Linked DNA regions of Homo sapiens. The gene in region 2 interacts genetically with the main gene of each other region. Each region holds a gene or a part of one and is shown on either strand. Other genes may lie near its edges.

What was found.
Region 1: changes in KRAS (region 2) and ACACA are lethal when combined (synthetic lethality), as found in Homo sapiens cells (2 studies listed by BioGRID, with this or other methods).
Region 3: changes in KRAS (region 2) and PRPF4 are lethal when combined (synthetic lethality), as found in Homo sapiens cells (2 studies listed by BioGRID, with this or other methods).
Region 4: changes in KRAS (region 2) and ERCC2 are lethal when combined (synthetic lethality), as found in Homo sapiens cells (2 studies listed by BioGRID, with this or other methods).
Region 5: changes in KRAS (region 2) and NAPA impair growth when combined (synthetic growth defect), as found in Homo sapiens cells (2 studies listed by BioGRID, with this or other methods).
Region 6: changes in KRAS (region 2) and MIS18A are lethal when combined (synthetic lethality), as found in Homo sapiens cells (2 studies listed by BioGRID, with this or other methods).
Region 7: changes in KRAS (region 2) and WDR36 are lethal when combined (synthetic lethality), as found in Homo sapiens cells (2 studies listed by BioGRID, with this or other methods).

What each region holds. Positions count from the first base shown.
Region 1 is NC_000017.11:37,260,051-37,264,469, forward strand, and holds part of ACACA (acetyl-CoA carboxylase 1), read right to left. Parts: intron 3,845-4,419; coding exon 3,635-3,844; intron 1-3,634. UniProt on the Homo sapiens protein: Cytosolic enzyme that catalyzes the carboxylation of acetyl-CoA to malonyl-CoA, the first and rate-limiting step of de novo fatty acid biosynthesis.
Region 2 is NC_000012.12:25,205,221-25,209,639, forward strand, and holds the end of KRAS (GTPase KRas), read right to left. Parts: 3' UTR 26-4,419; downstream 1-25. UniProt on the Homo sapiens protein: Ras proteins bind GDP/GTP and possess intrinsic GTPase activity. Plays an important role in the regulation of cell proliferation.
Region 3 is NC_000009.12:113,277,952-113,282,370, reverse strand, and holds part of PRPF4 (U4/U6 small nuclear ribonucleoprotein Prp4), read right to left. Parts: intron 3,427-4,419; coding exon 3,240-3,426; intron 1-3,239. UniProt on the Homo sapiens protein: Plays a role in pre-mRNA splicing as component of the U4/U6-U5 tri-snRNP complex that is involved in spliceosome assembly, and as component of the precatalytic spliceosome (spliceosome B complex).
Region 4 is NC_000019.10:45,359,655-45,364,073, reverse strand, and holds part of ERCC2 (general transcription and DNA repair factor IIH helicase subunit XPD), read left to right. Parts: coding exon 1-88; intron 89-162; coding exon 163-331; intron 332-2,431; coding exon 2,432-2,550; intron 2,551-4,419. UniProt on the Homo sapiens protein: ATP-dependent 5'-3' DNA helicase. Component of the general transcription and DNA repair factor IIH (TFIIH) core complex, not absolutely essential for minimal transcription in vitro.
Region 5 is NC_000019.10:47,486,500-47,491,345, forward strand, and holds the end of NAPA (alpha-soluble NSF attachment protein), read right to left. Parts: intron 4,358-4,846; coding exon 4,289-4,357; intron 3,263-4,288; coding exon 3,212-3,262; intron 1,891-3,211; coding exon 1,789-1,890; 3' UTR 1,138-1,788; downstream 1-1,137. UniProt on the Homo sapiens protein: Required for vesicular transport between the endoplasmic reticulum and the Golgi apparatus. Together with GNA12 promotes CDH5 localization to plasma membrane.
Region 6 is NC_000021.9:32,269,050-32,273,468, forward strand, and holds part of MIS18A (protein Mis18-alpha), read right to left. Parts: intron 1,481-4,419; coding exon 1,358-1,480; intron 755-1,357; coding exon 658-754; intron 69-657; coding exon 1-68. UniProt on the Homo sapiens protein: Required for recruitment of CENPA to centromeres and normal chromosome segregation during mitosis.
Region 7 is NC_000005.10:111,122,921-111,127,339, forward strand, and holds part of WDR36 (WD repeat-containing protein 36), read left to right. Parts: intron 1-884; coding exon 885-1,004; intron 1,005-1,187; coding exon 1,188-1,269; intron 1,270-2,687; coding exon 2,688-2,875; intron 2,876-3,813; coding exon 3,814-3,963; 3' UTR 3,964-4,419. UniProt on the Homo sapiens protein: Part of the small subunit (SSU) processome, first precursor of the small eukaryotic ribosomal subunit.

The DNA.
Region 1 (4,419 bases), on a different chromosome or scaffold from region 2:
TTTGTATTTTTGGTAGAGATGGGGTTTCCCCATGTTGGCCAGCCTGGTCTCAAACTCCTGACCTCAAGTGATCTACTCGCCTTGGCCTACCAAAGTGCTGGGATTACAGGCGTGAGCCACCATGCCTGGCCTGGTTAGTGGCTAAGTTTTGACAAACAGGACACCAGCATTGGTAAGTGATATGCATAACTCCCAAGTCATATATATATATATATATATATATATATATATATATATATATATATATTTTTTTTTTTTTTTTTTTTGGAGATGGAGTCTCGCTTTGTCACCCACCCAGGATGGAGCACAGTGGCGCAATCTCGGCTCACTGTAACCTCCGCCTCTCGGATTCAAGTGATTCTCCTACCTCAGCCTCCTGAGTAGCTGGGATCACAGGCACATGCCACCATGTCAGGCTAATTTTTATATCTTTAGTAGAGATGGGTTTTCATCATGTTGGCCAGGCTGGTCTCGAACTCTTGATCTCAGGTGATCCGCCCACCTCAGCCTCCTAAAGTGCTGGGATTATAGGCGTGAGCCACAGCACCCAGCCCTAAGTCATATTTTGAAAAGGAAATGTCTCATTCTCTATTCCTGGCTTTTTCCTTCTTATTCATTGGAACATAGTCATGATAGTATAAGCCAACTTCAATCATGCAAATGAGAACACACTAAGAACACCAAGAAAAGAAAGGAAAAGAAAAGAAAGAAAAAGAAAAGAAAGAATGAACCTGAATCCCAAGATGGTCTCGTGGAATAAAACACTTCCACCAGCCCTGAAAAGCTCACCTCAGACTAGGATGGGAGAGAAAAATAAACTTCTATTTTTGGGGGGGTCCGCTGTGTTTTTTGGACCTTTTTGTTATAGCAGTTTAACCTGTATCCTAATCGATACAGGAATTATTAAGTGCAGGTAGAATGTTGCTGTTTAAAAATATTAAAATATGAGATGCTAGCTTAGCAAAAGGGTAGTGGGTAGCAGAGAAACAGATACTGCAGGCTGGAAAGGTGATAATCTCCTTGTTGGGATAACACAACATTTGGTAAACTGTTTCCTACAATAACTTGGGATACTGACCACACACCAACTAAACCTTAAAAAAGATGGTCTGAAAGGGTCAGAGTGTCGAAAAAGCCAACTTCTTTTGTATCCCCCCAAACAGAAAATGAGATTATCACCCTGAAGCAACTCAGTGTCAAAGATCAAACGTGCTGCTTTAGTTTCAGCTGGCCCCAAGATAGCCAATATTAAATCAAGGCAAGAGAGATAGGCTAAGCACAGAAGCCAGTAAATAATAGAAGAAAAGTTTCTATATCTAGAAGAAATCTATGAGTATGATTAATCCAACCCAAAGCTGATTGCAAGCAAATAGCCCAGAAGCTTAGTTAAGTATTTGAAGGAATTGTATTTCTAAACAAACCACAAACCTGGCCTTCAAAAGCCTGCGACTGATGATTGGGATATTTGTGCCCTCAATCCTGCACCAGCAGGAAGTGGGTTGTGAAAGTTCTGCCAAAGAAGGCATAGTCTCCAAAGCCCAACTCACAGAGAAAACTGAATGAGGAAGAACTTCCCAGAAAACAATGTCAGGTGTCTTGAAGGACAATGAACAAGGGATTTACTCCCTTATTGCACTTCTCTGGAGTGTGCAGTAGCAGAACCAGGGACAGCCAGGTCTAACTGAGGTAGTATTCTATTATATAGCAGGGAATCATTGCAATTCCTACCTAAAAAGGAGGATTTGATAACTGCTATGGACCAACGATTGCTATGTATTTTTCATTTTTCCAAATGAGAGTTATCCTGTTCCTATTCCATCATTGTATATGGGTGTATGGTGAAGGCAGGGGATATAATACTGGGTAAATAACTTGTATTTTGAGTCACTGGCCCATGAAAAGCCACAATACATATCTAATGGAGAAGAATATACATCATATAGAGATCCGGAATCACCTCCAGTAATAACCCATCCAGTTACTAGTAACTGGATGGGGCTTCAGGTTGTCTTCCTTGGACAAAGGCTATGTGTGCTCTGAAAGTAGGAAAAAGGATAAAGGGATAATAGGTAGCCAGAGGAACAGACTGAGGCACAGATTATGAAATGCCCTCCAGTGACTTTTCTCTACTTCATCATTTTAGGAATAAAATCGAAATTTTTGCTGAGCACATGGTCACCCAGTTAGTGATCACAATTCCTAACATCCTTTGTGCTAGGTATAATTGTGTAACTGAATTTTGTCCAGTGGAATGTGAGCAGAAGTGATGTATGTGACTTCAAGATCATGCTTCCATATGCTTGCCCTCCACATCCCCTGTCTCTTCCTCCCACAGGCCACAATGTGAACATAATCTTGTGTGAGTTAGCTTAATCATGAAGATGACAATGTCCAAGAGCAAAGTTTGGCAAACTTTTTTGGTAAAGAGCCAGATAGTAATTATTTTCAATTTTGTGGGCCATATAGCCTCTGTCACAACTATTCAATTCTACCATTGTAGTGATAAAGCAGCCATAAATAACACATAAATAAATAAGCATCATTGTGTTCCAACAAAATTTTATTTACAAAAACAGGCAACAGGTGAGCAATAAACCTGTTTCTGGTAACAGCTCATCTCTGAACTATGATGAAAGAGAAATAGAAACTTACACCTTGTTTAAGCCACCGTATTTTGCTTATTTATTTATTTGTTTTGAGATGGGGTCTTGCTCTGTCACCCAGGTTGGAGTGCAGTAGCATGATCAAGGCTCACTGCAGCTTTGACCTCCCAGTGTCAAGTGATCCTCCCACCTCAGCCTCCCAAGCAGCTGAGAGTACAGACGTGTGCCATGACACTCAGCTAATTTTTGTATTTTTAGTAGAGATAGGGTTTCACCATATTGCCCAGGCCGGTCTCGAATTCCAGGGCTCAAGTGATCTGTCCGCCTTAGCCTCCCAAAGTGCTAGGATTACAGGCAAGAGCCACCATGCCCGGCCAAGCCACTGTATTTTGAAGGCATCTTTATTACAGCAGTTCAAGAGTACATCCTAATATATACACAACATAGGAAATAGACCTCTAACACACATGAAATATATTTTGAAGAATCTATTTTGATGTAGAGACTGGGTTAGGACTCCAGAAAAGACTATGTTCAGGCCTCTAAACTATAGTTATTCCGAAGGCATCGCTCATGACTTTGAGAAACTACTTTCTATACAAAAAGATAGAATGTGTGAACTCTGAAGATATTTAGAGGACTTTCCAAAAACGATAATAGAGTTGATTAAATTCAGCTGAAGACTTGATGATACTCAACCCAGCAAATAAAACTACCTGATTATGAGCCTCTTAAAAAAATCAATCATAAGATTAAAAATTCCAAAACATTTCTCTTCTTTATCCCTGTATCCTGAAATGGTACGCTGATTTTTTTTAGAAAGCGTTAACTACTTTTAGAAGCTTGACATGTTCCTTGACAATTCTCTTAGTGGGAGAACAGTAGAATTTTTTTTCTCTAAGAAAAGGATATAATTTTATTAATTATTCAGAATCGTTGCTTAAAATGCCATTGTTCTCAGATTGGTACATGAACTGAATGAAAAATGTTCTATGTAAGAAAACATAAAGTAAGCCTTTTAATATATGTACCTGTTCCATGTGTTCAAATACTGCTGGAGTAGCAATAGTAGCAGGTGCTTCTTCAATAATCTTCTGATGCCTGCGTTGTACAGAGCAATCACGACCAAACAAAGAGATAGCATTGCCATATTGGTCCGCTAAGATCTGCACCTCCAGATGACGAGATTGTTTGGCTAGTCTCATCACAAATATGGGAGATCCAGGAACTTCAGCTTGAACCTGTATTAGAAAAGGGGGAAAAAAAAAACCAATTCTTAAATTTTAAACTTTTTATCTATCTTGATAAGCTACTTTGATTTCAACAAGCAGATGTCCAGAAGTGTCAGGAACCATGTTAATCAGCAGAAATACAAAACTGAATAAAATACAGTCCATGCTGTCATCTTTAATATCTTTAAGATGCTGCATTCTTACATAACCAATATTAATTGATAAATATGAAAACATACGAACATCTGGTGCATCACAAAGGTAAACAACAAAATATTTGAAAACATAGGCACATACACAAATCCAACAACAGGGCAAAATACTGCCATCCTGTACTCTGTACAACCAAATGTACAACTTGTTCCAGACAAGATACTTTCCTGGTTCACATTACATCATATATGGTATTGTTGCAGCCAAAGGACTTTCATCTTTAGTTTTGAAGAATATTACTGTTGGGGACAGAATTCTAAAATGGTAACTATTTTTTTTCTCAGCACTTTAAATAATCCCAATGATTTTCAGCTTTCACTGTTTCTACTGAGATGCCAACTGTCAATCTTATTGTTACTATTTTGAAAGTA
Region 2 (4,419 bases):
TTTCATGAATAAATACACACTCATAGTCACTGTAACTATTTTTATTACATTACAATAATTAGGAGTAGTACAGTTCATGACAAAAATATTACAAATTTTAGATCACTTCACAGCACATACTCCTATAAACATTTAAAAGTTAATTTCAATTAAAAGAGTGGTCATTTTTAATGTTTGATATGACCAACATTCCTAGGTCAGCGCAACCAAATGATGGAAAACAACTGGATCACACTGCATATGTCCCACAAAAGAAAGCACAATGTACAAAATGTGCATGTTTCAGTTTACACTATACAAAAATAGTTAAAATACATTCCAGGTAAACATGTTACATTAAGAAATAGTACTAGTAAGAAATTGGCACTCAAAGGAAAAATGCAAAAGTATTTTCAACATGAAAACACAAGACAGTGGAATTGGAAACTTTCGGATAAAACACTGTAACCCAGTTAGCTCTGTGGGGGTGTGGGGGGAGAGATGGGCCCTCAACATATCTGCAGATAACTTTTTTTTCCCCTAAATTCATCTAAATTACCTATCATTATCCCAAACAGGCACTTCAAACTATTAAACTAAAACACAGATCTTAATCTAGTTATGACTATTCTTCAAGAACTCATGTGAGTATCTTTCTTTAGAAAGAAAGTTTCATTTTATGACAGCTATTCAGTTTCTCAATGCAGAATTCATGCTATCCAGTATTAACACAGAAGTTACTAAATATAAATTCAGCTTTAAGGTAACTGCTGGGTTCTAAAAAACATTACTACACAATTATCAAGAAATCATTACTTTTTGACAAATGGAAATCTTCAGATAGTTTTTGCTGTCTAAAAAAAAATCCCCTAAAAAAAGTTATATACTGTTTGAAGAAAAAATGTTTAGAAGAAAAAAAAAATCAATGGAATACAAATGAGATGAACTTGTGCAAACTGTAACTTAACATGCCCCACAAAGTTTCTATGTATATATTAGGACAAAATTGTGCAATGGTGACAACAGTTTTGATAACCTATAAAAGTTAGGTTCTAAATTCCTATGCAGTGTGACTCAGTTAAATAGAGCCTAGAATGCCTACTTGGGAACATTCACTCAAATGATACAATATACGTCTGCTATATTCTTCCACAAACATGTTAATGCCTAAGTCTATGTAATTTAGCTTTTTTTAAAAAAACTTCAACAAGGATTTTTGTCTTTAAGGCTGTAATAATTAGGTAACATTTATTTCTAGAATTCTCCCCCTTTAAAATCTCTACAAAAACAAATCTTTTGTTAAACCATTCAAAGTTCACATAAAGGTAATTAACCACTACCTTAAAAAAATGCCCATCTACATCAAAAATTCAAGAGGCCTAAATATCCCCTCATAAGCACTGCAGTTCCTGAAGTATGGCCATTTCTTTCTCTGTGTAGAAACGAGGTACTGTGTAAGTCTTAACACCCTACCTAAACAGTGTTCCAAAGATCTGTAGTTTCACATAGCAATTCAGAAATCATAGTGATTTTTACATAGAAGTTTCCTTGTCTGTGAACTAGTTCAGGCACCTGTTTATTTGTACCCAGATAAAACTATTAATTTTTAAGTATATTTTAATTACTTATGCAGAGAAAACTGGAATATTACACATTTGGGTCAATATGAATATCTGACATACACCTTAATGTGTACAGTAATTGTCCTAAAAGAATCACAGTTATGCCAAATAAAAAAACAATATAATCAAGTTTATTCCTTTAAAACAATGAAGTGATTTACATAAAGTAGCTTGATCGAAGAGTTTCAGTGGAATCGTAGCAAAACAATTATAGAGCTGGCACAGAGACCAAACCCCTTCTTTGCAAAACTAAAATACGCATCGTGTTATCTCTGGGTCGTATACCAAAGGCCTTAGTAAGATATTACAGACCACACTAGCACTACCTAAGGACCGGGATTATGTCTCTTGTTTGGGGATACCATATACCCAGTGCCTTGTGTGGTGACTGGCATCTGGTAGGCACTCAATAAATATTTGCTGAATAAATGAGTTCTGCAAAACAGGTTTATGAGGCCAAGGTGGGTGAATCACTTGAGGTCAGGAGTTCGAGACCAGCCTGGCCAACAGGGTGAAACCCCGTCTCTCCTAAAAATACAAAAATTAGTTGAGTGTAGTGGCACACGCCTGTAATCCCAGCTACTCAGGAGGCCGAGGCACGAGAATCGCTTGAACCTGGGAGATGGAGGTTGCAGTGAGCTGAGATGGCGCCACTGCATTCCAGCCTGGGTGACAAGAGCGAGACTCTGACACCAAAAAAAAAAAGTAAGCTTCATGAATTAAAGTATTTTTCATTGCATGAAGATTTCTGGTTACTAAAACAATGGAATGTATTACTGTTACCAGGAGTAGTCCTAGTTATAGATTACCTAAGGAATTCTTTCAGCACTATCTTTATTAAATTCTCCTTCCACTGGATAGGGTTCTGTCTATTCATACCAGGTTTGAAAAATCCTACTGTCGCTAATGGATTGGGCAGCAAAGAGATGTTCAAAGCATCAGCCACCACCTGAAAATTAGTGATTAGGTCAAATCCCTTTATGGTATCTGTCAGATTCTCTTGAGCCCTGAGGAAATAAGATGTAGGGCATTTCTGATGTGACTCAGTGGGAAAACTTCATGGAGATATCCACAGCAGCAGTAAATCTTATGGTTAGGGGAATTACAAGTATTAAAACTGCATCAAGTCATGGGGCATGTGGAAGGTAGGGAGGCAAGATGACACTAATATGGAAGAAGAGTCCTAAAACGAGAATGGATATTCAAATATAAACTTCACCTCTTGCACAATTTTGCCCAAGACTGGCACTGAAGATGGTGTAACATAGGTTAAAAATTTACAGATTGTGCTGAGCTTGACAAATAAGTGTATCCTTATGTAAATGGAATATAAATTACATAGTTGTAAAAAAAAAAAACTAAGAGTTTGAGATGACTTCTTTTAACATGAAGAAATGGATAGTAAGTGATGTCCTCAAAATCAGAGTCCTAAAAGACACCTATCTAGAACCTAAGTCACCTTCTTCCTAGTCCAGTGATACTTTCACCTCACCATGCCATCTCACTTCATTTATTTTAAAATAAGTAACATTTTAAATTTATCAAAAGGATTGTTTTTATTTTTATTTTAAAGCATTATTAAATATGGATCAGACTTGAAAAGTGTTTATGCAATGTTAATTTAACCAGTGTTAAGAGAACTAGCCAAACCTAGAGATTGTAAAACTTTTTCACTTCATTGTTTAAAAAAAAAATTAATGTCTTGGCACACCACCACCCCAAAATCTCAACTTTTGAGTTAATATTTAAAAGTAATTTTTAAAAAAGAGTTTGTTTTCTTAAGAAACAAAAGCAATGCTCTTGATTTGTCAGCAGGACCACCACAGAGTGAGATTGTATCTTGTTGAGCTATCCAAACTGCCCTAGTCCCTCCCCATTTTGACTAACCAATGCATGACAACACTGGATGACCGTGGGGACACAGTCCATGCTGTGAAACTCTCTATGAAAGCTCAAAGGTTCACACAGGGCCTGGCCTTGCAACCTTGGTCTCTTCAACACCTAATAAGCTATAACTGGCCCAAATAATCTTTTAATGTCACAAGCAGAATTAAAACTATCTTCAAAGACTCAAGTTGAAGAAAAGATTTAAAGTTATACTATGAAAGAGCAGTCTGACACAGGGAGACTACATTTAATTCCTATGAGAATTTTTTATACTTGTTAAAATCTTTTCAATTATTATAAAAATTTAGTAGCATGTAAATATAGCCCCAAAATGGTTGCTATAATAATCCCCATTTCATACTGGGTCTGCCTTAACAGGAAAAGCTATTAGGAGTCTTTATAGTAATTTATCTAATGTGAAAAGGAAATGGCCTTATAATAGTTTCCATTGCCTTGTAATTTTTTTCCATTTTTTTCTTTTTATAGAAAAAATATAATATTTTGGGGAGAGTGACCATGACTAATAGCAGTGGAAAGGAGACAAAACCTTTGTGAACAGTGTAACTTTACATTCATCAGGGATGACAAACTATAGGACATGATGCCTAGAAGAATCATCATCAGGAAGCCCATAAATTTGTGTTCCCTCAATGTTTCAGTAAAAACCAATTAGAAGGTCTCAACTGAAATTAGTAATTAATCCATTTATGTGACTAGATAAAACACAGAATAGGGATGATTCAAAAGCTTCATTAATTTGTTTCACACCAACATTCACAATTGGTAAGAAAAATAAGAAGTAATCAACTGCATGCACCAAAAGCCCCAAGACAGAAATCTTAGGTATTCAGTTTCTTTTTCACAGGCATTGCTAGTTCAAAAACCAAAACTCTGGGAATACTGGCACTTAGAGGAAAAAAAAACTTCCACT
Region 3 (4,419 bases), on a different chromosome or scaffold from region 2:
CCTCCCGAGTGGCTGGGACTACATGTACACTGCTACAACTGGCTAATTTTTAAATTTTTCTGTAGAGAGAAGGGCTTGCTATGTTGCCCAGGCAAGTCTTGAACTTCTGGGCTCAAGTGATCCTCCTGCCTCAGCCTCCCAAAGTGCTGGGATTACGGGCATGAGCCACTATACCCGGCCCTCCAGGAACCTTCTTTAAGAGTCAAGTGGGGATGGCTAAACTCCCAGTGTGGTTTCTCCCACTCAGTCTTCTCTATTTGGAAATTTCCAAAATTCAACTATAAGCAATTACTCTATACAGTTTAGAGTCAATGAGCCCCTACACTGCTACCACTTGGTCTGTGAAGACTGCCAACTTTCACTCAGTGCCACAATGTACTGGATACTGACTCAGGTGCTAACTATACAGTGATGACTAGGAATCAGTTCTTGATTTCAAGTAGCTTAGTCCTGGGGAAACAACAGAGAGTACTGGCAAACTATAATCCATTATATTACCTATCACTATAGCAGTAAGCACAGAGGGCTAGAGGGGACTTTGTAACGGGCATCTAACTAAGCTTAGAGGATCAGGGAAGGCTTCATTAAAAAAAGGTAATATGTAAATTGAGTCCTCAGTTAATCAGGTCAAGGGGGTCAAGAATGAGAAAATGTCAGGCAGAGGGTTAAACAAATAAGGCCTGGAGGTAAGAAAAACATGTTGAGCTTGCAGTCACAAATAATTCAATATGGCTGGAGCGTAGAACATAGAAGAGGACTGGTGAAGAATAGGGCTGCAAATGCAAGGAGGAGCCAGGTCACAAAGAATTGCTAATGCCACGCTCAGGAGGATTTACAGATGAGAAAGATCCCTGAAACAGTACAAAGAATGGATTAAAAGGGAAGAATAATGGCAGGGAAATCAGACAGTACTGTTGTAGTGACGCTCTGAGTCACAACCGTGGACTGAAATTCAGATAGTAGCAGTAGTGACTCAAAGGATTCATTTAAGGAACATAATAATGAATAAGATAGACTTTGCTGGTGGAAAAAACAAACTAAACAATAATAAAAAAGTATACCCTTTGAAAAGGCTAATAAAATAACATACTATGACAGAGAACAGAGGGGTTAGGTGTGACGAAAGGCTTCTTTGAATAGGTGGCATCTATGCTGAAACGAAAGAATAAGAAGTTTGACAGGGATCCAGGTTAATAAAAAATGAAGAAGAAAGGCCGGGCGCGGTAGCTCACATCTGTAATCCCAGCACTTTGGGAGGCCCAGGCAGGCGGATCACTTGAGGAGGTGTTGAGAGGATCACTTGAGGAGGTGTTCAACACCTGGCCAACGTGTTGAAACCCCGTCTCTACTAAAAATACAGAAATTAGCCAGGCATGGTGGCACATGCCTGTAGTCCCAGCTACTTGGGAGGCTGAGGCAGGAGAATGGCTTGTACCTGGGAGGTGGAGGTTGCAGTGAGCTGAGATTGCACCACCGCACTCCACCCTGGGTGACAGAGCGAGACTCCGTTTCAAAGAAAAAAAAAGGAAGAAAAAAAGCCTCTAAAAGACAAGACAGAAGAATAAAAGTAGACCAATTATGTGGAAAGACATAAAAAGAACTAGCATATTCCATAAGGACCAATGTGGCTATTCTAGTAAATTGGGGAAGGGAGACATGAGTAAGGCTGAAGACCTTACAGACCATGGTAAGAGTTTTTTACTCCAAGTATGAGAAGACAATCTAGGATTTTAAGCAAGCAATTAACACAACATGTTTGGGGCTATCACAACAGTGCAGATTTGAAAGCAGTAAAGATAGAGCAAAGAAGATAGCTGGAGTTGTATCTCGCAAGTAGAACAGACCAGATTTTGCTAATGGATTATAAAGGAGGCTAGGCAGATTTTCAACTAAGAATTGTATGAGTATAGGAGAGAGGTGGGGAAATATTTCAATTCAGATGTCTCAAGTTTGAAGTACCTGTGGGATACCTAAGCTGCAGTGAGAGATTTGGGAATCATCAGAACACACAGTGAATGATGCCATGGGAGTAGAGCTGATCACCAAGGGCAAGTAGAGAAAAAGGCAGCCTGTAAAGGGCAGGCAGAGAAAAAGAGGTTTAGAAGGTAAGTGAGAAGAATTAGCTAGTGAGAGAAGAGGAAAATCAAGAGGATTTGTTATTAGGAGAGTGAAGGAAAGGGAGTAGTTCAAGGAGGGAGTATTTCAAGGAGGAGTGGCTGGCAGTATACTAGGGCTATTCTTAGTAAAGGTGGATTGGTGATCTTAACAAAGAGCAATTTTAATGTGGTAGGGGTTGGTCAGTTTGCAGCAGGTTGAAGAGTAAATAAGGGTAAGGACCTCAAGGGAGTAATAGAAAAAACCCTTCCAACAAGCTGGATGATGAAGGGTAGATGAGACAGTGGACAGAGAGACCAGAGGGGCTCCTCATAATTGTGTGTGACTAGACCACAACTAAGACTTCGCAACCTGCAAATAACAAGAGGGCATTATCTGAGGATGGTACCCCTCTTCAATAAAATCCAAGAAACATTTATCATTGTTCTATGTCATTGATATGGAATGCATTTGATGTCTCAATTTTCAAAGCCCAACAACAAATGTTTATCCAATTCAAAACTCGCACTGGGGAGGGGAGGCAAGGGAGCATGTTAGCACCCTCTTCCAAGTCTATAAAGAAAAACGGGCCAGGCACGAAGGCTCACGCTTGTAATCCCAGCACTTTGGGAGGCCAAGGTGGGTAAATCATTTGAGGTTAGGAGTTCAAGACCAGCCTGGCCAACATGGTGAAACCCTGTCTCTACTAAAAATACAAAAATATAAAAAATAACTAAAAATACAAAAAAGAAAAATGTGGTGGCAGGTGCCTGTAATCCCAGCCACTTGGGAGGCTGAGGCAGGAAAATCGCTTGAACCCGGGAGGCGGAGGCTGCAGTGAGCCGAGATCACGACGCTGCACTCAAGCCTGGGTGACAGAGCAAGACTCTGTCTCAAAACACAAAACAAAACAAAACAAAACAAAACAAAACAAAACAAAAACGAACAAACACAAAAAAGAAACATTAATAGTGCGGTAAAAATTGGCCTAAGACAGATTATGGGCTAACTCATATAAACACAGTAAGATATTGTTAACATGATTTGAGACATTCTATTAAAGTTCAACTAAATGATCAACCAAAATTTGGAGTAGAACCCTGTGATTATAATAAAGAAAAAAAGTAAATATTTAGAAAGGCAACCTTTCTCTTCTTTCAGCAGGACCCTCTCCAAAAAGTGTGATGGGTTCCCCCAAGGCTCTAAGGCAAGCTTTGACCTCTGAGTCATCTGTGGAAACATTGATCTGCCGGGCTCGCTTCCTTCTCTCAAACTCAGCCAATACTTCTGCCTGTCGCTCGCTGATATGCTCTTCAATTTCAAACACTTCTCCTATTAAAAAGAAAACAGGCAACATCAGCAGATCTTCTTCAAATAGAGAGAAATAATTTCTAGTAATTGCAGTCTGTGTATGCCCTGAGGGAAAAGTAACTGTCTATTACACATTTTATAGTTTACTGTTTTTCAGTTTATTAAATTATGCCAAACACATAAACCTAAATGACACAGCTTCAAAAGGCAAGAAAATGGTTCAAGCCACCTCTTGTTTCATTTATTAACTTTGTGCCTATATAAACACACACTTTGGCTGAGACCAGCAAGTAAGAGTACAGAACATCTTTTGCAAATGAGTTAACTAGGCTGTCTATCCAGAAGATGTAACAGAAACATTATTGTAACAACAGCCAAAGCTATTTATTCTCGAAAGGAGACCCAGTATAGGGATACTTAACAAATCATTAACTACTAAACTGCAAATAATTACCAGGAAAATGAGAGTTCCACAACTATAAGGATTTCTGGATAATCTAGCAATAGTTTTGAAACCCACACCAAAATACAAGTGTGATAAAAAATGAGAGGTACAGTGGTGACGTTATGTTTAAAAACAGTATTAAAAGTTTAAAAAGTCACTAGGCTACAGTGCATGTGTTTAGAAAATGTGTGGGAGGATCAATAAGAAACCTGACAGATGTCCCTACTGCAGAGGAGTCTTCATTTTATGCCCTTTGGCATTGTCTGAATTTCTTAGGACAAATATGCATAATTTTATTTTTAAAATATAGTAGACCTCTCATTACTGACATGGAAAGATATCCTCAATGGTATATAAATGAAAAATGGGGGTTATACAACAATTTACGTATTGTGTTTTCATTTATGGAAAAAATTACATACTTTTTAGCTGTATTAAAATTCTCAGAAAGATATACAATCAATTAATTTTAAAAATACAGGATTTTCTACTTCACACATTTATACATTGATCTTTTAAAAGAAAATAACTTTTTTTTTTGAGACAGGGTCTCGCTCTGTTGTTCAGGC
Region 4 (4,419 bases), on a different chromosome or scaffold from region 2:
CTGGTGGAGGGGCTGCGGGAGGCCAGCGCCGCCCGGGAGACGGACGCCCACCTGGCCAACCCCGTGCTGCCCGACGAAGTGCTGCAGGGTGAGCCCCGACCCCCCGCTGCCCCCCAGTCCCTTTCCCGCCTCCCCGTCGCCGCTGATAGCGTCTCCTCGCAGAGGCAGTGCCTGGCTCCATCCGCACGGCCGAGCATTTCCTGGGCTTCCTGAGGCGGCTGCTGGAGTACGTGAAGTGGCGGCTGCGTGTGCAGCATGTGGTGCAGGAGAGCCCGCCCGCCTTCCTGAGCGGCCTGGCCCAGCGCGTGTGCATCCAGCGCAAGCCCCTCAGGTGCGGCCCCAGACAGCGCGCGGGGTGGGGGCCCGGCAGGTCCCGGTTATGCAGAGCCGTGTCCTCCACGCCTGTAGCCCCAGGTCACCACTGCAGCATCAGGAGTGAGTGAGCTGGGCGAGGCACGTGGGACCTTGTCTGGTCTGACCTGGGAGGTCCGGGAGCAAGGTTGGAGCTGATCCTGGGTCCGTGCGTCGGGCAGGGGCCTGGCAGGCAACACCTGGCTGGATTGGAGAATCTCCCCCACCCAAGAGAGAGTGGGAGCACCATTTACAGAGGGGCGGGCTGGGGGAGGAGCCAAGGAGGGTGGGAGGTGAGAGCTGGGAGCTAAGCCAGGCCACAGCGGCAGGGAGGGAGTGTGTTGAGAACCAACTGGTGGGGGCCTGGACAGGGGCTTCTGCTGGGAGCAGAAACCAGTACCAGGGCCTCGCAGGCTGGGAGCTGGAGGAGGTGTCCCCGGCCCATGTATCTTCCCACCGATGCCTCTAATCTTCCAAACCTGAGGGCAGGGGCGTCCCCATGGAGTAGTCTGGGCGCATTTTGGGGGAGTCAGTCTCTTGAGGCACAGGGCAGGCAGAGAATGACCAAGGGATACGAGGGGGCTTTTCCTTTGGGTAAGTCATGGGTCTTCTTTGAACTGCAGTTTCCTCCTTTGTAAAATGGCCAAGGAGTCGGGTCTTTACTTCACAGGGTTCTTTGGTGGGTTAATGAGAGAGCAGCGAAGCCAATCACCTACCCTGCCCTGAGCACTAAGGAGGAGCTAAGCCCTTTATGTTCCTTACCTCAGTTGCACCCCCAGTACAGCATCCCCACCCTGCAAATGAGGACACTGGGACTCCCAGAGGGGAAGCCTTTGCCCAGAGCCACACAGCACTGTGCCCGGTAGTTGGGGCTTGAAGCCATGCCTGTGGGCTCCAAAGGCCCTGGCTGCCCTGCCTCTGTGGGTGAGGCCACCTTCCATGTGGGTTTGCCCATCTTCCCCAGGATTGGAGACTTGTGAGGGCAAAGAGGGGATCTCAGTCACTCAACACACATTCCCCAAGTGCCTGCTTCATGCTGGGGACACAGCCGTAGAGGCTCCATGGCCCAGTGGAGGGGACAGACTCATCCTCAGCTAGCGACCAGCCGGGGTAGGCGCCTGGGGTTAGAGGAGCCAGGCTGGGAGGGCTGACGTGCGGGAGGCAGGTTTGCAAGTGTGACTGCCCACCTGGCTTCAAAGCCAGCTGCTCTATGACCCTGCCTCGGCCCTGCCTGTGTGTGGTTGTGGCCGAGTGGCCCTGCACATGCGTGAGTGTGTGGACGTGGTATCCGTGGGACTCTGTGGGATGTGGGTGTTGACTGCATTCCTCTGTGAGCCCATGGGGTTCCGACACCGTGTGTGTCCCCATAGGTGCGTGAGAGGCAGTGGGAGAGGCTCTGGGTGTGAATGCGTGACCATGTGGCCATGCGGGATTAATGCCATGACTGGGGGGTTCTGGGTGTGATTGTGCGTCTCTTGTTTTGATCAGAACCCACTTAGGGCCAGGTGCAGTGGCTCACACCTGTCATCCCAGCACTTTGGGAGGCTGAGGCAGGTGGATCACGAGGTCAGAAGTTCAAGACCAGCCTGGCCAACATAGTGAAAGTCCGTCTCTACTAAAAGTACAAAAATTAGCTGAGTGTGGTGGCAGGCACCTGTAATCCCAGCTACTTGGGAGGCTGAGGCAGGAGAATCATTTGAACCCAGGAGGCGGAGTCGAGATGGTACCAGTGCTCTCCAGCCTGGATGACAGGGCAAGACTCCATCTGAACAAAGAAAAAAAAGAAAAAGAAAAAAAGAACCCACTTAGGAGGTCGTGCTAGCAGGTGTGACAAGTGACCACATGACTCTGGAGTGTCTGATTATTGCTCTGTCTGTGCCATTATGCGGCAATGGCTATTTGTGACATGCAGGTGTACAGCGTGGGGGTGCAAGTTTCCAAAACAGGCCCAGTGCCCACCCTCACTGAGTGCTCATTGGCTGGGGAGACAGGCACGTGACCGTCGTGATGGCGGAGGCAGGGCTGCTGGTCCTGCTCATGCTTCCGTCTGCCCCCCGACCCCGTCTCTCCTCCCCGCCAGATTCTGTGCTGAACGCCTCCGGTCCCTGCTGCATACTCTGGAGATCACCGACCTTGCTGACTTCTCCCCGCTCACCCTCCTTGCTAACTTTGCCACCCTTGTCAGCACCTACGCCAAAGGTAAGCTCACCTTTTTCTGTCCCTGCTGGGCCTCCTAGCAGCTGGAATCAGGGTCCCAGCAGGGTCTAGAGGGTTGTTGGCAGGACACACAGGGCTTTGTGGGGTTTGGCTTGGAAGTGTGGGCCCTATTTTGAAGGCAGTGGGGAGCCATACATAGTTCTTGAGTAAGCCTTGTGCTCAGATTTACATTTTCACAGACTTCCTCGGGCTGCAGAGTGGAGAAGGATGGCATGGGCAGTGGTAAGGGAGGAGGCCAGAGAAATTCTATGGGGTCAGCTCACACTAGAGGGCACGGTAATGAGTTGATCTTTGTGCTCCTGAGGGCACTGGGGAGCCATGGCAGATTCTAGCAAGCAAGGTGCCAGGTCAGATTTGTGCTTTTTTTTTTTTTTTTGAGACGGAGTCTTGCTCTGTTGCCAGGCTGGAGTGCAGTGGTGTGATCTTGGCTCACTGCAGCCTCTGCCTCCTGGGTTCAAGCAATTCTCCTGCCTCAGCCTCCCGAGTATCTGGGACTACAGGCGCATGCCACTATACCCAGCTAATTTTTGTATTTTTAGTAGAGGTGGGGTTTCACCATGTTGGCCAGGACGGTCTCGATCTCCTGACCTCATGATCCACCGGCCTCGGCCTCCCAAAGTGCTGGGATTACAGGCGTGAGCCACCATGCCCGGCCCAGAGTTGTGCTTTGGAAAGATTTCTTCTGGGTGCTGAACGCAGTGGCTCATGCCTGTAATCCCAGCACTTTGGAATGGTTAGGCAGGCAGATGACCTGAGGTCAGGAGTTCGAGACTGGCCTGGTGAACATGGCGAAACCCCATCTTTACTAAAAATACAAAAATTAGCTGGGGCCAGACATGGTGGCTCACGCCCATAATCCCAGCAGTTTGGGGGGCCGAGGTGGGCAGATCACTTGAGGTCAGGAGTTTGAGACCAGCCTGACCAACATGGTGAAACCCTGTCTCTACTAAAAATACAACAATTTGCCAGGTGTGATGGTGGGCTCCTGTAATCCCAGCTACTTGAGAGGCTGAGGCAGGAGAATTGCTTGAGCCCAGGAGGCAGAGGTTACAGTGAGCCAAGATTGTGGCACTGCACTCCAGCCTGGGCAACAGAGCAAGACTTCGTCTCAAAAAAAAAAAAAAGGCCGGGCGTGGTGGTTTACGCCTGTAATCCCAGTACTTTGGGAGGCCGAGGCGGGCGGATCTCGAGGTCAGGAGATCAAGACCATCCTGGCTAACATGGTGAAACTCCGTCTCTACTAAAAATACAAAAAAAGTTAGCTGGGCGTGGTGGCGGGCGCCTGTAGTCCCAGCTGCTCAGGAGGCTGAGGCAGGAGAATGGCGTGAACCCAGGAGGCAGAGCTTGCAGTGAGCCGAGATCGTGCCACTGCACTCCAGCCTGGGCGACAGAGCGAAGACTCCGTCTCAAAAAAAAAAAAGAAAAAAAATAGGCCTGGCATAGTGGCTCATGTCTGTAATCCCAGCACTTTGGGAGGCTGAGGTGGGTGGATCACCTGAGGTCAGGAGTTCGAGACCAGCCTGACCAATATGGTGAAACCCCGTCTCTACTAAAAATACAAAAATTAGCTGGACGTGGTGGCACGCACCTATAGTTCCAACTACTCAGGAGCCTGAGACAGGAGAATTGCTTGAACCCGGGAGGCGGAGGTTGCAGTGAGCCGAGATCACACCAGCTGCACTCCAGCCTGGGTGAAAATGAGAGTCTGTCTCAAAAAAAAAAAAAGAGTTCTTCTGGCAGGGACTAGAGGCAGGAGACTGGGTGGCAGGCAGGGACCTGAGCAGGAGGGGAGGGGCCTTGGCCAGGATGTGGCCATGGGGAGAGAGAAAGGTATGGTTTGGAGAGAGATGT
Region 5 (4,846 bases), on a different chromosome or scaffold from region 2:
CATGTTGGCTAGGCTGCTCTCGAACTCTTGACCTCAAGTGATCCGCCTGCCTCGGCCTCCCAAAGTGCTACGATTACAGGCATGAGCCACAGCACCCAGCCCCAAGTCTGGATACTTTTAATGACTTTAAAGCATAGCCAGGGCGGACCATCACTGATTTAGGTCATGGATGACAGAAACAGATTCTCACACTATCCTTCAGCCAGCACCCATGATGGGGGCAGACATGGTAATCAATTTCAGGTCTCAGAAGTCTTTGCTGCCATTATCAGTGGACTGGAGCTGTGGGAGAAGCTGCAGGGGAGAGAGGAGCAGGGCAGGTGTCAAGGAATTTGAACCTCACCTGCACTTCTCTAGGCTTTCTGGGCTGGAGCCCCTCTCCCAGGAGTCCACCCTGGTTTCCTAGGCAGCCCCTCCTCTGTGCAATTACTGCCCCTGCTCACTTCCTGACATTTTCCCATCATGCCTGGGCACTGAGCCTCCTTCAGCTGTCTCCTCTGTAGCGAGGGGCCCTGCGCGGGGCAGGGTAAAGCACATGTGTACCAGACAGGGCCCCCAACATGCACATTGTGGAGTGTGGTGGAGGCAGCTGGTTTCTGCCCACCTTTCCTGGGCAAAGGCTCCTGCTATCTCCTCCCCCACTCCCCAGACCCACTCGGGCCTCAGACTCTGCCCACCAAAGCCGCTTCCTCCCCCGTCCTGTGACAGATGGAACAACTGTCACCGGGGCGTTCAGCCTTCCTGCCAGAGAAATGTGGACATGGGAGATTCGGTGGGCTTCCACCCATTCTCATCCAAAGCAGTCATGAGGACCGTCACATTCGACCCTCCCACTGGCTCTGAGGGGTGGCATCACCACCGTGCATCCCAGTTGAGGAAATCAAGGCCCCTGGACCCCAAGAACCCAGAGAAAGATCAAGATGGGCGCTCTGGGACTCCCAAGCCAGAGCTCCTCCCCAGGCCCACCGTCCCTGGGTCTCCCCCACCTAGAAACTGACCCAGCCCACACGTGTTTCAAGGATGCATGCGCCTGACCTCCCAAGAGCTCGCCCAGAGTCTGGGGGACCAGGAGTGTGAGAGGGACTGGTGACTGGCCCAGGGGCAGAGTGGGTAGCAGAGGTGAGGAGGAAGAGAGACTCATGCAAAAGTGTTGTTTTTTATTTTCTTTCTTGGGCCAGCTGCAGCTTCCAACCAAGAAAACCTCAAAGCATTAGGGAAGGAGCAGGTGTGGGGCTGGGGTGGGGAGAATCCCCTAAGCTCCAGGGCCCAGGGTCTAACCTGAGAGGTCGGGGCTGCAGGAAGCTGGGGGAGGCTCCCGGGGCTGGGGGAAGAGGAGCCTGCCCCCAGCAGAAACAGCAGGTCTCAGCGGCTACATGTGCTTTAGAGCTTGGCTGGGGGACAAAAGTGGGAGAGAGAGAGAAACCGGCCTCATGACTCAGCTGGTCAGGAGATAGGGGGCCAGATGCTGACCCCAAATCCCCGGCAGCACCCCTAGCAAATAGGTCTGTATCAAAGATTCTGTACAGCTGGTTTTGGGGGTGAAGGGCACCTATGGGGGCTTAAATAAATGGACAGGGGGCAAGGGATGTAGCGAGAACAGAGGGTGACTGTCCGGCCAGCAGCCTGGGCCTCTGGCGCCCCTGCATGCTGACCCCCGGTGCCACCTGCCCACTGTGGCCCGCGGCACTCCCCAGATGGGAAAGGAGGGAAGCTCTCCAGCAAGTCTCGGCCCCACCTCTCTCTGAGCAGATGGGACAGGAAGACGGGCACTGGGGGGCTGGGTGGGGCTTAGCGCAGGTCCTCCTCATCGCCCTGGATGGTCTTCTTGATGCGCAGCAGCATGGTGGTGAGCCACTGGTCCAGCCGGGAGATGGAGTCGTATTCCTTCACCTGAGGGCACACCAGGTGATAGGCTGGCCATGCTCCCCCCGTTCCCAACCCTGCAGCCCAAGGGCACTTGTCCCAAGGTTTTCAAGATCTGTCTCTGTCACCCCTGGTCTCTGAGGAGGAGTAGAGGGAGGGCTTGAGGCCCCAACTCAGCCATGGGAGCTCCCTCTTGTCTGTCTTGACTATGCTGGGCACATCATTTCCCTTGGGGGAGAAAGATATTGTAGCTTTAAAAAAAAAAAAAGGTCCATGGCTGGGCGCAGTAGCTCACGCCTGTAATACCAGCACTTTGGGAGGCTGAGGCGGGCGGATCACGAGGTCAGGAGATTGAGACCATCCTGGCTAACAGTGAAACCCCGTCTCTACTAAAAATACAAAAAATTAGCCAGGCGTGGTGGTGGGCGCCTGTAGTCCCAGCTACTCGGGAGGCTGAGGCAGGAGAATGGCGTGAACCCGGGAGGCGGGGCTTGCAGTGAGCCGAGATCACGCCACTGCACTCCAGCCTGGGCGACAGAGCGAGACTCCGTCTCAAAAAAAAAAAAAAAAGTCCAGCATCCTCACTGAATGGGTGGGAAACTGAGGCCTGGAGATATGGAAAAGGCCACTCCTGAGTGCCATGGGACACGGGGGAGAGAAGCCACGGCCTGCTGGGCATCCCCTCCCTGAGCTCCTGGCTGAGTTGCCACCCACTGTCTGGGGCAGGAGGAACAGGATGGCATTTTCACTGTCCTCAGTTAGGGGCTTCCATTCCCAAGGGGCACCTAGGGAGAAATGCTTGACATGTGCCATTAGAGGAGTGAATCAGGACCTGAGCCGGACACCACTAAGCCCGGGAATGCTGGGAACAGAGAAAGGGAAGGGAGAGAGAGCCGCGTGGGCGGCTCCACCAGGCAGAGGGAAGCTGGCACCTCTCCCATGTCCTCAGCTCCACTCTCCTTCTCACCCCTTCCCTCCCCGTCTGTGCCTCCTGGGTGCCCAAGGCGCCCACTGTGAGTCTCACACACTCACCTGGGGGACTCAAGGAACCCTGGTCTTCAGAGGCAGACAGATGTGGCTCTGAACACCAGCTCTGTCCCTGAGGGGCCAAGGCCGAGCCTCCTGACCTCCCCAACCTCAGTGCCACCATCTATAAAATGGGGAGAACACTCCCTGCGCCTCTTGGCGCTACTTGTAAGGTTTCTGGGGTGACTGGAGAAAGAACTTCACAGTGGGCTGGGGGCCAGATGAAATGGGTGAATGTCATGGAGAGCGTGTCTGAGAAGGGCAGCTTTCCTAGGAGACCCATCCCCGTGAAGGGGCCTGGCCCCCCATGCTGGCCACTCACCGACTCGGTGTAGCTGTCCACATTCTGCTCCTCGTGGGCCTCTAGCAATTTCTGCAAGCAAATGGCAGAGAGGGGTCAGGGGCCTATGCTGACCTGAGGTCTGGCCTGGATTAGATGAAAGGACACGCTATCTGTATGCCAGGCCTGGGGCTGGGGCTTCCTGAGGACTCTCAGAGGGTCAATCCGTGTGGGTTAAACTGGGGATGGGTACGGGCGTGTTGCGATCCTGCTGCCCTATTCATCAGAAACGGCTTGCTCTCAGGGCAACCTTACCAACATAGAACATCACACAGAATGTGTGTGTGTGTGGGTATGGGGGGTGTGTGTGTTGGGTGTGGTGTGTGGTGGAGGTGTGTGTGTGTGTGGTGTGTGTGTTGGGGTGTGGTGTGTAGGGGCACGTGTGGTGTTTGGTGTGTGTTGAGTTGCGTGTGTGGTGTGTTCGGTGTGTGTGTGGGGTGTGTGTGGTGTGTGTAGTGTGTGTGCAATGTGTGTGTGTGGGGTGTGTCATGTGTGGTGTGTGTGCAGTGTGTTTTGTGTGTGGGGGGGTGTGTCGTGTGGTGTGTGTACTGTGCAATGTGTTTTGTGTGAGGGGTGTGTCGTGTGTGTGTAGTGTGTGTGCGATATGTGTGGTGTGTGATGTGTTTGCTGTGTGTGGTGTGTGTGTAGTGTGTGTGGGGTGTGTGGGGTGGTGTGTGTGTAGCGTGTGGTGTGATGTGTGTGGTGTGGTGTGATGTGTGTGGTGTGGTGTGTGTAGTGTATGTTTGGTGTGTGTGGTGTGGTGTGATGTGTGTGGTGTGGTGTGTGTAGTGTATGTTTGGTGTGTGTGGTGTGGTGTGGTGTGTGTAGTGTGTGTGTGTGTGTCCACCTAGCCATCCTGAGCTCCAGCACTCCCCGAGTTGTACTTTCTTCATCTGGAAAATGGAGACTCAAATGGCCAAACAAAACAAAACAAAACAAAACAAAACAAAGACACCCTCTGAGAACTACTGGACAAGTCTTGGCGATTGTCCCACCTGGAGCCCCAGCCACCCCCGTCTGAGGTTCGGGAAGGGGGAGGCCGGAGCACCCAGCACTTACTTTCATCAACTTGCATTCCCGGGAATCAGAGAAAGCTGGGAACAGCTCCTCATACTTTTGGACAGCCAGCTGGGCAGCAGGGAAGGGAGAAGATGAGTTAGTAACAAGAGGGTCCTCAGAGCTACTGGCCTAGCAGCTGAGGGGACTTGGGGATGTCGGGTGATATTGAGTCAGCTCTTGCACCCCTCCCCCAGCCTCAGGTGTCACCTGGCTCTGTGTCTGTCAGTACCTTCCCGTAGCTGAGCTCAGCACCAGCCTGGCTGCAGAGATGGCTGCAGGGAGAGGTGGGTGGAGGGGGAAGGTTCCCCAGATAGGCACCCACTGCCTCCTCCCACCTGGCTCAGCTGGGGCAGGGGACAAATGAGCACATCCTCCATGCCAGGCCTGGGGCTGGTGCTTCTTGAGGACCCTGAGAGGGTCAAATGACGGTGAGCCCCCTTTTCAAAGTGAGGAAACAGATCCAGAGAGGGGCAGTGACCTGCCCAGGGCACGGTGAGACATGGGGTGGGAATGGGAACCTGGTCTGACAAAGCCCAAGCTTTTGCCCACCACCGGTGC
Region 6 (4,419 bases), on a different chromosome or scaffold from region 2:
GTGGCAAAGGACAATTTGGATTCGGCCTCCCACAGCTTCATTTGTAATGCTTTCAAGACATCTTCCATCTATTGAATTTAAAAAATAAAAAAATAAAGAAACACACATATAATTAAAAATTATACATGGTTAAATATAATTAAGATATACACTTAATGCAATTTTGGATATGTCATACATTACAAGGTAGATATTCAGTGTTTAACAAAACTATTTAGAGGCATAAATTTTTTAAAAATAAAGCATAATTCTATCAACAGTAGTTCTCAACCTATAATCTACATCTCTTTTATACAATCATCACCATCTCACCTATCTGGCAATGAGAAAATGTTAACATCCAACAACAAGGCTATTTATACCACAAGAATTGAATCAAACAAAATACTGATTTGAATCAAAGATGTATTTCTAGCTTTGCAGTGTTTTAATATATAGTTTTGATTTTGACATGACATGTCTTCCTCATTATTTTGTTGATTAAGCTTTAGCTTTTGAGTTCCCCAAAAATCAACTTTACTAACAACTGAAATGAAATAAGCACACTCTTCCTGCAATCAACACAGATGACGTTATGAGAATTATCGTTTGTGGGGGAGCACTTCTTCACTGACAAACTGTTCATACAAAGATATAAAATGTACAGAATAAAATTACCTGTGTTAGAGACTTTTCTATTTCAACTCTGCTTTCAAGATTAAAAAGCTCTTTATCTTCTGACACAATTTGCTTTTCAGAGGACCCTAAAACATAACTGAAGTACGGTACAAGGTTAAAATACAAGCTGGGTGTGGTGGCATGCACTTGTTCCCAGCTATTCAGGAGGCTGAGACAGAAGGATCATCTGAGGCTAGGAGTTTGAAACCAGCCTGGGCAACACAAGACCCCGGGCAATATGCCTGTAGTCTTAGCTACTTGGGAGGCTGAGGCAGGAGGATCGCTGGAGCCCAGGAGTTCAAGGATGCAGAAAGCTATGACCACAGCACTGCACTCCAGCCTGGGCGACAGAGTGAGACCCCATATCTTAAAAAAATAAGTTTTAAAATAAATAAAAATAAAAAGCTGGGGGCAGGGGGCAATATCCTACTGAACTACTTTCAATTTTTAAAAACAACTGAATATACTTTTATTCCAAAAATTTTCTCACAGTGTTTTCTCCTACAATTTAGAGTGTCTGACTTTTCCAATACCAAATAAAGAAGGAGGTCAAAGCAAAAAAAAAAAAAATTACTGGCTTGTTAGAAATCATTACTTGAAAATATATTTAACCAAACAGTATTGATTTAGTTCTGACAATTCCGTGCCTTAACTTTCTGAAACACCAGTTGTGAGGTAAACATTTATATATCAAACTTACCTTTCAATGGCTTCAACACTGAGGCAAAACAAGTCTCTCTTGTAATCAAGATTCTTGGGCGTGCATCTGTACACGTAGCCAAGATTGAGTGAGCACCCCGCGCAGCACAAAGTCTCAAGGACGCTGCAATAAAGAAATGTCTTGCTTTAGGAAACGAAGCAGCAACTCATTATAATAAAAATCTCACTGTTAAAATCCATAAACACCTCAGTTTCTCAAGTATGCTATTCTGACCACACTAGGTCATACATAAAGGATAGGAAAAAATGATAGTAAGATATTTACAATAAAAATGTAAAGACAGCCACGATGCCTTAAGTATCAAATGACAAGGGACATACAAAAAAGTGACAAGAGAGAATATTGAGGTGGTGTTTTTCTAGAATATAAATTCCTCCATCTGGTACTAATGTAACAAAGTGGAGAATAAATATTTTAGCCTCGCCAGCCATCTGGTGTCTGTCACTACTCACCTCTGCCATTGTAAAACGGAAGCACCTATAGACAATACTAACTGAATAACCTGTGTTCCAATAAACTCGTATTCACAAATGGGTGCCCGCCCCATGGGCCATAGTTTACCAAACTCTGCTCTAGTGGAAGGTAATACTGCTTGGCTTAATAAAAAAAAAGTCTCTAAAGTTAGATGACAACCCATGTAATTGTTTCTTCATTCTAGTTACCTCTCAACTCAGGTTCCACACACTTGAATATACCCTCCCCCAAAGCCTATTCATGTCTCCTTAAAACCTGGCTTAGAATCCAGTGTCTCCCAAACGCCTTGTTGAACTGACCCATCCAAATTTACCATTCTATAAATATACTAAAATTACCATTCCAACACATAGCAAAATGATAACTAGAGATTTAAATCTAGTAGTGATCACAGTAGTAAAACATACACCACAAACGATTTTTATTACAAAAGTATTCTAACTCCTACTCAGTATGTGAAACACTTGTAATCACTAAATATCCATTCCTGCTATCAAGCAAAAGGGAGCTACCCAAGACTCACAGATTATAGACTACATCATTGTTTACTTACAGATACTGAGACACTGTTAATTATTACAGCAACATATGGAACAAAGAACAAAATGGATCACCATCTGATTAAGTCATGAATTCTCACTGATGATGTGATTAGCTGGATAGTATGCCACTGATTACATATTAAGTGTCTACGGGCTTTTATAAGCTTCTATATTTTAGTTTTATAGTAGAAATAGTCTCGCTATGTTGCCCAGGCTGGTCTCGAACTCCTAGCCTCAAGCAATCCTCCACCTTGGCCTCCCAAATGTGAGATTACTGGCAGGAGTCACCATACCCAGCCAGCTTGTTTAAATGTTTATATGAGAAATAAAAAGCATGTCGGTAAATCCCACTTAAATTACTCACAGTGAACAGGTAAACCTCCATGCTATATATCAAACCTCATTACCATTATAAGACCGCCTCACACCATTACCAAGACTGCAAACTAATATCTAATGTCATCAGCCAAGAAAGGACACTCAGAGAAACCAGAGGCTTGAACTCCCCAAATCCACTGAGCCATGAATAAGACTGTTTTATCCCGAGTTATCAAAATCAACCTAAACACCACCAAAAATAGGAACAAACCCATTCACACTTCTAGAATCATCTTGTGGAGCAATGAAGAGATGGTAGCTAGTATTAAGGCAGCAACTTTCCGCTTTCACAGTTGGCAAGAATTTGGCCAGCATTCACCCCTTTCATTGAACAGTAACATTGAGAAGGCAGTGCCAATAATCGTAAGGTGATGTTAGACAAGGAATAATCCGATTGTTAAGATCCTCAACAAAGGACAAAGTCAGACTTAACAGAGAAAACAGCACTGGCACCTTCACAACATATTTCTAAAGCCCACAGTGCTCTTGCTGACCATCAGCAGAAAGGCTCAGGCAGGTATCAAAAAATTCACAAGCATCCCAAAGCAACACGGGAGTGTGCAGCACACAACCCTAGTGAAGTCCAAGACAACTGAAGGCAGTCTAATCGATGGGTTTAGGTGATACAAACAGTATTAATAACTCTGGATCAAAGAGAGTGAATTCTCTATCAATCCTGATTAGAAAAAAGAAGAAAGTCTCGGTTTGGTGCTAGACTGTCTTTGACACTTGTCTCATAGTCGCAAATCTTTTAATAGTAACAGAACAGACCTCAGGCAGAGAACCAGCCAGGCAACAACATCTCAGCTAGAACTAATAACATTTGTTTTCACTGTAATTATCTTCAGAGTTACTTTCTAGTTATGGCAAGTATGTATTTATGATAGTAAAAACAATCCTTTTAAGACAAATTTAAATAAAAATTTTGAGTTGATTTAATTTTAAAAATTTAGTATGTAATAGCACAGTTGGTACCTGGTACACAAATAGGACAAAAATGATGGTGATATCAAAATGGCTAGAGCTAGAGCTAGAAAGTGGAGAAGAAAGAGCACTTCGAAGGCAGTAAGGAAGGGTAACAAGCATCATCCTAGCTCTTACTGCTAATTAGTCCTGTGACCTTAGCAAAGTTCTAGCCTCCCTGGGCCTAACTTTCTTCAACTACCAAATGAGAAATGATCTGAGGTGGGTTTTCCAAATTTTTATGGCCTGCATGCCGGCACCACAATTTCTGTCACATCCACAAACCATCTGTACTATTACTAATTTATCTTAAATGGAGAAACTTTTTTTCTTTTTTTTTTTTTTTCACTTTTATGGAAGAGATACATAGGGCAAAGGTTACAGAAGGGGGACACAGAGCTTCCAAGACCTTTCTAGGTACACCACCCTCCCGGCATCTCATATTCACCAATCTGGAAGTTCTCTAAAACCCATGGGTTTTTTGGAGGTTTTATAACACAGGCATGATTAATTACACCATTGCTGATAATCTCTAGCCCCTCTGCCCTCGATGGAGGTAGGAGAAGAGGTTGGGGTAGGGCCAAAACTTCCAACCCTCTAATCATGCCTTGGTCCTTCTGGCCCCCAATCCTGAAGCTACATAGAAGCCCCCCAGCCACAGTCACCTCATTAGGATTAAAAACG
Region 7 (4,419 bases), on a different chromosome or scaffold from region 2:
TCAACATGGTGAAACCCCATCTCTACTATAAATACAAAAATGAGCCAGGCATGTTGTACGTGCCTGTAATCCCGGCTGCTCAGGAGGCTGAGGCAGGAGAATTGCTTGAACCCGGGAGGCGGAGGTTGCAGTGAGCTGAGATCGCACCACTTCACTCCAGCCTAGGCAATGGAGTGAAATTCCATCTCAAAAAAAAAAATGTTCCTGAGATACTGATATGTAGCAGTGTACTTACCAAAACAAAATTCTTTCAATGGAAATTTCAGTAGAGTTTTTGCTAATATAATTTTACTAGCATTTGAAATACTTATAAACCAGCAATCATGTTTTCTTGAATTTTAAAAGCACAAGGTACTAAAGAAAAAATTCCAGCAAAATAGAAAAATTAGAGCTGTACTTTGAAAGGAAATTATCAAATTACTTATAATGTCAGTCTGCTTCTGGCTCCAAAGTTCCTTTGGAGAAAAGTAATTTAAGAAACTCTTTTGTATTAAGCATTTATGTAAATTTTGCTTTCCATCCTGTTTTGTGAAAGAGTTTGTACTCAATACAAAAGGAAGTTTAAAATTACTTAATTGTTATATCTTCATGTAAATATATTCATATTTCAGGAAAATGAGCTGTGTTTGTCTTAGAACTTCCCCTGTGCCCTGTCACTTTTTTTCTGCCTTATCGGCAAGGGTGCTAGAGATCTGCATTGGGAAGCCCAAGTTAAGGATAGCTGTGGTATTGGTCAGAAGAGATCATATTTTAACATTCTTATGTGAAAGAGTTTCATTCCTCTTTTACTTTTTGGTATTTGTTTTAAAATTGATTTGAAATTAAATATGAGAAACTGTTGGCAAGATAATTCCTATTTTTCTTTCTCATTTTCTCTTAATCAGAAAAAGAATAAACCAAAGGAACCACCCAAAGTACCCAAATCAGCACCATTTTTCATTCCAACAATTCCTGGCCTTGTACCCAGATATGCTGCACCTGAACAAAATAATGATCCCCAGCAGGTAAAAAACAAATTAGAAGATTCTAAGTATATCGGTGTATGTTTGTATGTGTTTTCTGCACTTCTTTACCAAGACCTAGTTTTACAGATATAGGGTAAATTAATGATAGCTTTTAATTACAAACTATACATTTTTGGGTGATACTTGAATTATTTGAATAATGTGTATTTGTTTTTGTTTAAGTCTAAAGTGGTAAATCTTGGAGTTTTGGCTCAAAAATCAGATTTCTGCTTGAAACTTGAAGAAGGACTGGTAAATAATAAGTGTAAGTTGAATTATAAGATATTTTAACTAATATATTTAGCTTATTTTACTGTATATGAGGAGAAATTGAAGGAAATATCAGCGTTCTCAGTAGTTAAGATAGTAAAAATCAAAAAGATTGAAATTTTGGTTTTAATTTGACGTAATTTTAGCATTTATATTAAATAAGCCCACTAAACTCAAATGGTATTGATATTATAAAAATCTGTTGAAGATTTTTCATATATCTAACTTACTTTTTGCTATTGGAGATGGACACAGTTATTGACTATATTTATAATAAGGAGATCCTTCTTGTTGTGAATTAAATGTAAAAGTTTTGTTTGTCGTTTTTGTAGCAAGTAATTTGCAAGTCTTTTGTTTTTATTTATAATTTGTAATTCAGCGGACTGCTTAGGTGATTTCATATATTCCTAAATTATTTTATTAAAAAGGAAATGTTTTAATCTGTCTGTTGTGTTCATATATTTAAATTTCGAAGGCTACAGTCTGTAGCTAATAGTGATTAGCCATAAGAACTGTAATCATTTAAAAAACTGTAGTCACTCTCCTAATAATTTTAACTTGTCCTCTTGTTTTGATTCAAATGCTTTTGTTTTCATACCGAGATTACTTGAGTCCACATTAGCAAAAGTCAGAGAATGATACTGATGAGCCCTTGTAAATGACTTGTTATGTTTATGGGGAGACAAAGAAATAAAAACACTATTGTTTACTATATACTGAAGGATCTAAAAGTGATTAGACTTTTGTCATTGGTGATACTCTTTTTCAGAAAGCTAAAGCATAGTCATTGCAGTTCTCAAATGACTCATAAAAATAGCTGTAAGTGTACTGAGTGTGTTTTCCTAGGGTGCATATGAAACAATTCTTCTAGGGAAAAGAAGTAGGTTTGGGCTGGGTAAGAATAAGGGATGGGGTCTTCCCCCTCTGATTTTATATATTCTGTACTGTTAGTAATATAGTTCCTAATGATTATGTACTTTTATAACTTTATAACAATAGAAAAGAAAAATTATTTTACCTCATCAGATTCCCAATGCTAACCACTATTAATACTTTTGTATGTATCGTTATAGGCTTCTTAATTAGGATTTACTCTGAGAGAAGATATATGAGCATTTTAAAATTCTAACGTGCCTGTTGCAAGGCATTAGATTTTCTTTATTAACAGGAAAAAGGTTTAAATTACAGAAAAAAAATGTGTTTTGAGTACTTTCTCTTATATTGGTGTCATCGTTTGTACTGATTTTCAATTATTTTGGGTTTCATTCTACTACATAATATGAAAAAATTAACCCACAGGAAGAATTTCCTGTACCATTTAAATATATCCTATTTGGGGTATAAAAGGAAAACTGTAATTTTCTAAGTTAAATGATTATAATCAAGTCATAACTGGATTAAAATTTAATGCAGATGACACTGCTCTCAACCTTCTGAAAGAATCAGGCCCATCAGGAATTGAAACAGAGCTGCGAAGCTTGTCTCCTGATTGTGGTGGGTCCATAGAAGTTATGCAGAGCTTCTTGAAAATGATTGGGATGATGCTGGACAGAAAGCGTGATTTTGAGTTAGCCCAGGCATACCTTGCATTGTTTCTAAAGGTAAGTCTAATGTAAGACAGTACTGCCCAGCTTGTCTTCTTCTGGGGCAGTGCTATCTAACAGAACTTTCTGCAAAGATGGGTATGCTGTATATCCATCCTTTCCAGTATCATAGCCACTTGCCACATGTAGCTATTGAGTTCTTGAAATGTAAATAGTGTGATCAAGAAACTGGATTTTTAATTTTATAGAATTTTAATTAATTTAAATTTAAATAACCGCATGTGGCTAGTGACTACCACATTGGACAGCTAGACAGTGCAGCTTGGGAGTCTTGTTTTGTTTTTTTACTCAACTGCACAATAATTTTGACTTTACCCCCTGACATTTTTATGCTATCTGCTTGATCCAATGTGCTGAACCATTAACTTTTCTTTTTTTAGTGGTTAGTTACATTTTGGAAGTTTTTTGTGATTATGAATAGAAAGTTGGGTTTGTTTGTTTTTTTTTCTACTACTGAAATCAAAATGTTCACTTCTATCATTATTAAAGGAGTTTTGATCATTTGACAATAAGACTGTTACTTTTATGATTAATATAGTGGTGAACTCATGTTTTGAGGGTCTACTTTAGTGGTATAATGTGTTGAAGGAGGTAGATGATGCCGATTTTTGGTGATAATAGATTTGATTCTTTATCCCATTTATACCTAAAATGAGTTCACTTGATCTGATTATTTAAAAGTATCAGGACTGTCCTTAGGTGGAGAGGAGTGATGACCACTTTAATTCTACCAAGGAAGTCACAGTATCATAAAGGACCTTATAATAAAAAAAGTTTGATAGAGGAGGGGAAAATGGGAGATAGTAATAAACCAGCGCTTAAGAAAACAAATATTCACCTAGTGTCTTTTGTGGTTCCTTGGTAGAAAAATTGAATCCAGATTAGGTAAAATTTTAATTTTCTTAAATGTTCAATCATCATATTTTTCTTTGCAGTTACACCTTAAAATGCTTCCTTCAGAGCCAGTACTCCTAGAAGAAATAACAAATTTGTCATCCCAGGTGGAAGAAAACTGGACCCATTTGCAATCACTCTTCAATCAAAGCATGTGTATTTTAAATTATCTCAAAAGTGCTTTGTTGTAAAAATAAATTTGTGACTAAACAAAGACTTTCATATTAAATGGGTTCAATTGAACTCATTTCTTATTTTCCAAGTGTCAATGTGAAAAGAAAATAAATGCTAGCACTACTGACTAGTCAGTATATCTCCACTTTAAATGCTAAATACTTTCTTGAAATAAAATCGCACCTCCCGGCCAGGCATGATGGATAATGCCTGTAATTCCAGCACTTTCAGAGGCCAAAGCGGGAGGATTGCTTGAAGCCAGGAATTTGAGCCCAGCCTGGGCAACATAGCAAGCAAGATCCCATCTCTACAAAAAGTTAAAAAAATAAATTACACCTGCCTTTTGTTTTGAAGACTTAAAGAATCTGCTCAAATGATTTATTTTCTGAGTCTCTTCACATTAACTTTTATATGATTTTTAAAAAATTATTACCTGCTTATATTTTTTGAGTATCTGTTTCATATAAAGAGAT